2 separate regions of the Homo sapiens genome follow, and region 2 is linked to region 1. Evidence: fine-mapped expression QTL. A gene starts in region 1. The other region holds a variant in brackets. All regions are shown on one strand. Distances are from middle to middle. Region 1 holds the start of COX11 (cytochrome c oxidase copper chaperone COX11). Region 2 overlaps TOM1L1 (target of myb1 like 1 membrane trafficking protein).

Region 1 (2,920 bases):
AGGTGATTCCCAATGTTGCTGTACAATGAATTTTGGGAGCCACTATCTTAAACACTTACTGAATCACTTGTGGCATGATTTTTAAACCGAAATTCCTGTCCCTACCCTAGACTTCCTAACCAGAATCTCTGGGGTAGGGGATCCCTGGAACGTGTATTTAACGTTAAGCTCCATAGGTGATCCTAATGGCCAGCCAAAGCTGCAAATTATTAGCTAAGAACAAAGGAGAAATCTCTAAAATACGTGAAACTTGTCTTTGCCTGTGGTTCTCAAAACTTGCCCTCAAAATCAACTACAGGACTTAACTAAAATATAGAGTGCTGGTCCCACTCCCCTTCTTCTCCCCGCCCCACCCCCCCACCCCGTGTTTCTGACTCAGTCCTGGAGTCGGGCCCTAGAATTTGCACTTTTAACAGGTTCCCGGGTGATGCTGATGCTGCCGGTCCTGGGCGCCACACTCCCAGAACCGTTGCAATGTACTTAACAGTTTCCAGGTTAAGTACATTACAGTTATATATTAACAGGGGTGGGGCGAGAGAGCCTCAAAGGCCTAATTCATGCCTCTTTGTACGGAGGAACTGCTAATCCCAGTTTAAGCCCAAGAAACACGAGTAGTCCAATTTCCAGAGTTACCCTTGGCACATAAACCACATGTGGTTTGCAGAGTGAATGTATGAATAATACATTTTAAAAGCGTGTGTGCGCAGGAGGGTAAGGCAGACTGCTAGATACCCGGTTAGAGGCTGCGGACCTTTTTTTTTTTTTTTGGCGAGGTGCAGTTCATAGATCAGGGGTTTCACTCTGCAGCATGGTATAAGCACAATCACTAAGAACTGGATGCTACTTGCAGTTTTGTCACCAATTTCTTTGGTGACTTTGGGTGTTAAGTGACTGTTTTGAACCTCTCTCCTCTTAGGTAGATAATATCGGAAACCTCTTCCACCTACGACCCGCAGAGCGAGGGCTTGTCCCGGGATTTGTCTTGCACCCCCACCTCTCGCGTCTGCGCCACCCTGCGGGCGGCGCCGGCCCCTACCTGGCAATAGAGCCGATAAAGGGGTACGGCAGCGTAGGACGCCCCCAGCATGCCCACGGCGACAGCGGCCACGTAAGTGAGGGTCGTCTTGTTCTGCCGCCGCCGCTCCTCCTCCTGCGCGCGTGTGAAAGGGTTCGAGCTCTTAGGCCGCCGCGGCGGCTGCAATGCTGGATGCCGGGCTCGAAGGCTGCAGCGCTTCCATGTCCCAAGCCACCTCAGTCCTCTCTCGGCACCTCCTGTCCCACTCCACTCTGGCCTAAGAAACGGCTCTACCCTCTCTGCAGCCCTGGTTGGAGACCCAGGGTGGATCCAGCGCCAGCCACAGAAAGGAACGCACCTCCATCCAGGACGCCAGAGCCCTCCCATAACCCTCTGAACTAACACCCACCCGCCTCTCAGGGACGAGAGGTCAAATCTCGCGAGGCGTGCTCCGTCTCGCGAGATCTGGGTTGAGCCTGCCGCTGCCTTGGCTACCAGGCTCCTCAGGTGGCAGCGCTTGCAGTCGGGCTACGGAGGCCGGGTTGCCAGATTACGGGTAAGTTTGCGTTTTGCTTTGTGACTGTTACTCCCACTTCGCTTCTCGCCAGAACGTCTCTTAACATTTAGGAAAATGCGTTTCGCCCGTCCGCGTGCAAGCTTGCCATCACTTGGGGTTGCGCCTGTGATCTTTATTTAAACTCCACCAGCCTTTGTCTCGACCCGGCAGCCCCGGCGACGCTCTCCCGCGGTCTTTTCTCCTGGGGTCCCTTGGCCGCTGGCTCCTGTGCTCACTGCCCTGGACTTAGTTCAAGTATCACCTCTCTCAGGAAGCCTTGCTGTGTTAACCGCAGCCCTCATGGGCACCCACGACACCTGCATTTTCTCAGCCCGTGGGCAGTCGGCTTCCCCTGCTCTGATGCCCCTTACAACTTGCCCAGTGGAAAGCACCACAGCTGGAGCAGGAGGGAGGCTGTCACGCTGAAGTTTGTTCTGGAGAGAGTGACCAGGATAGGAGGGCCATTTAAGGAGAGACTGAAAGAAACGAACCCCGTGGGAGGATGTAATAGCTTTCTTCAGTTGTCCCACAGGACGAACTCGAGGGGGGCAGACAGCATAGCGGATTTTACTGTGTTAGAAGGAAGCATCTTTCTAGAAACTATAAAATAGCAGTTAAGAGCTCAGGTTCTGAGGTTAGGGGGTTCTGGATTTTTACCCGGGTCCTCACCATGGCCCTGTGCCCTTAGGTCAGTTACTTGTCCTCTAAGACCTGGTGTCCTTACTTGTAAAATGGAAATCAGAACAGTAAATGAATAATATTCATATAACGTCTTTCATGATGACTGAGGCATAGTAAGAATGTAGTTAAAAGTTAGGCTGTATTTCTACTTGCTACGTGGCCATTTCTAATGGCCAGAGCAGGTATAATTATCCCCACTATGTGGATGAGGAACTTGGAGGCCTGAGAAATTTTAACTAGTCATTCGACATTTTATTTATTTATTGCCCTCTCAACTGTGGGCCTGACACCAATCGACCTGCTGGCACTATAGCACAGAACAAGTCGGGAGATCACTTCAGTGATGGAGTGTCCTTTCTGCTGAGGGACTCAGAAAATAATCAAGTAACAGTTACCGAAATAAGGGAATTTCAGATAACAATCAGTGCAGTGAAGACAATGTAATAACATAGTATGATTGACAGTCATGAGAAGCGGTAGTAAAGTAAGGACGTTTTGAAGAGGTGACATTTGAGTTTAGATCTGAACGATGATAAGGAGCTACCTACTCAATAACAATTCCAGGCCAAGCAAAGGCCCAGGGGAAGGAAAGAGATAGAATGATTGAAGAACAGAAAGAAGGCCACTGTGTTCCCAACATAGCAGAGTGGAAAGTGGTAGGAAATGGG
Region 2 (2,920 bases), 25 kb before region 1:
AAGCGAGTCTCCTGCCTCAGCCTCCCAAGTAGCTGGGATTACAGGCACCCGCCACCACACCCATCTAATTTTTTTTTTTTTTTGTATTTTTAGTAGAGACCTGGTTTTACCATGTTGGCCAGGCTGTGGTCTCAAACTCCTGACCTACGGTGATCTGCCCACCTCGGCTTCCTGAAGTGCTGGGATTACAGGCATGAGCCACTGTGCCCGGCTCATAGGCCATATTTATGACCCATTTACTAACAGGCAACAAGCTAAGAAGTATAGAAATGCTTACTAATTACTTAACCTATGAGGTATGTGCCACCATCATTTTCATTTTAAACAAGAGGAAACCAAGGCTGAGGAAGATTAACTTGCCAGTGGTTGTCCAGCTAGTACTGAGACAGGATTCAAATTTAAATGGGATTCAAAATCAAATTCTGATTTCAGTAACTTCTCTCTTTTTGTTTTTAGTTTTGTACTTTAATTTTATTTCTAAAATTTTCATATACTAAAATTGACCTTTTTTGTTTTGGTTTGGTGTACAGTTTTATTTATTTTAACATACGTATAGATTCAAATAACTACCCCCAGTCAGGATACAGAATAGTTCCGTCACTCAGCAAAACTGCCGTGTGCTATTCCTTTATAGTCACACCCTTGTACCCCTGACCCTCAATCCCCAGCAGCCAGGAGTTTATTCTCTATTGCTATAGTTTGTCTTTGAGAATGTCATTCAAGTAGAATTATACAATATATCATCTTTCTAGAAGAGATTGTATTAAGTTGGTATTTGCTTTATGTGTTTTGAAGCTCATGCATTCGGCTATGTTGGATCTTATTGGTTGATTGAGTCTTTTATCATTATGTAATGTCCTTCTTTGTCCCTCATAATTTTCTTTGTCCTGATGTTGATTTTGATAGTAATATAGCCACTCTAGCTTTCTTTTGTTTAGTGGTTGCCTGGTATATTTTCTTCTGCATTTTACTTGTAACTTAACTGTACTAAAAGATTAGGAGTTTCTTAGAAATAGCCTATAGTTGGTTCATGCATTTTTATATATTCTCATAATCTCTTTTAATTGATATGTTAGGCAATTTACATTTAATTTAATTGTATGTAGAGTTTAGGTCTACTGTTATATAGTTATTCTATGTGTTCCTTTTTTTCTGTTTCCTTTTTCCTGCTTTCTTTTGGATTATTAGAATATTTTTAGTGCTCCATTTTAGTTTATTGTGATTTTGACTGTATCTTTGTATAAT[G/GGTGT]GTGTGTGTGTGTGTGTGTGTGTGTGTGTGTGTGTGTGTGAAATAAAGTTGCTTGGTAAATAATGTGGTTTAAAGTAGCTGATTCTTTTCCTGTTATTTTGCTAATTTTGTTAGCAAAATATATATATGTATATATGTTTATATATACATGTACACACACACATATATATAAAGAGAGTTTGCTTTAGTGATTGCAGTATACTTATTTTTCAGTCTACCTAAAATCAATGCTTTACTACTTGAAAGTAAAAACCTGGGCCGGGCGCAGTGGCTCACACCTGTAATCCCAGCATTTTGGGAGGCTGAGGCGGGCAGATCATGAGATCAGGAGATCGAGACCATCCTAGCTAATACGGTGAAACCCTGTCTCTACTACAAATACAAAAAATTAGCTGGGCGTGGTGGCAGGCACCTGTAATCCCAGCTACTCAGAGACTAAGGCAGGGGAATCACTTGAACCCGGGAGGCGGAGGTTGCAGTGAGCCGAGATTACAGCCACTGCACTCCAGCCTGAGTGACAGAAAGAGACTCTGTCTCAAATAAATAAATAAATAAATACATAAATAAATAAAAGGAAGTAAAAACCTTATCACCATATAGATTCCCCTTTTCTATAATAGTTATCTTATATATTACTCCTCTATACATTGAAAAGAAACCACTAACAGATGATGCTGTAATTTTTGCTTACAACCCTGAGATATATTGCAAAGAATTCAAGAAGTGGCCGGGCGTGGTGGCTCATGCCTGTAATCCCAACACTTTGGGAGGACGAGGTGGGTGGATCACTTGAGGCCAGGAGTTTGAGACCAGCGTGGCCAAAATGGTGAAACCCCATCTCTACCAAAAAATAGAAAAAATTAGCCGGGCGTGGTGGTGCGCATCTGTAATCCCAGCTACTCGGGAGGCTGAGGCATGAGAATTGACTGAACCCAGGAGGCGGAGGTTGCAGTGAGCCAAGATCGTGCCACTGCACTCCAGCCTGGGCGACACAGCAAGACTCTATCTCAAAAAAAAAAAAAAATTCAAGAAGAGAAAAATAGTCTATTATATTTACCCAATGTTTACCATTTCTCTTACTATTCTCTTCTGGTATAATTTCCCTTCTCTCTGAAGAATTTTCTTTATCAGTTCTTTTAAAGCAGGTCTATTGACAGTGAAGTCTCTTAGTTTTACTTCATGTGAGAATGCCTCTATTTTGTCTGTTCCTGAAGGATATTATCAGTGACTACAGAATATGGGGCTCATGCTTCTATTCTTTCAGCAGTTTTAAAAGGCTGTGCCACTCTTTCTAGCCTAAATGGTTTCTAGTGAAAAATCTACATTCATCGGAGTTGCAGTTCTTCTATAGATAATGTATTGTGGTTCTGTCTGCTTTAAATAATTTTTCTTTTTATCCAATTTTGAACAGTTTGATTACAATATGTGGGGTATGGATTTCTTTTGTTTCTTTCTCTTGGGGGTTGGCTGAATGTATTAGTTTCCTGGGGCTGTCATAACAAATGACTGCAAACTGGGTGGTTTAAAACCACAGAAATTTATTATCTCACAGTTCTGGAGGCAAGAGGTCTGAAATTCAGCAGAGTCACACTCCCTCCACAACTATTACGGGGACATCTGTTCCCTGCCTCTTCCAGATTCCAATGACTTGTGGGTACTCCTTGGATTTCTTAGC

What was found. PIP is the estimated chance that this variant, and not a neighbour inherited with it, causes the effect.
Region 2: its variant is the best candidate, but not a certain one, in a credible set for the expression of COX11 in whole blood (INTERVAL, PIP 0.84).

What each region holds. Positions count from the first base shown.
Region 1 is chr17:54,967,245-54,970,164 of GRCh38, forward strand. It overlaps COX11 (cytochrome c oxidase copper chaperone COX11), which reads right to left and starts at 1,410. Exons shown (of 4, transcript NM_004375.5): 1 at 1,037-1,410. The coding sequence starts at 1,402. It overlaps STXBP4 (syntaxin binding protein 4), which reads left to right and starts at 1,521. Exons shown (of 18, transcript NM_178509.6): 1 at 1,521-1,571. RefSeq lists enhancers at 480-1,429, 1,279-1,338, 1,349-1,428, 1,430-2,378, 1,609-1,708 and 1 more.
Region 2 is chr17:54,942,196-54,945,115 of GRCh38, forward strand. The region is part of intron 11 of TOM1L1 (target of myb1 like 1 membrane trafficking protein); the gene reads left to right. Among named protein-coding and RNA genes, the nearest start is that of COX11, 25 kb to the right of the region's middle. The variant G/GGTGT (reference allele first, on the strand shown) is at 1,246.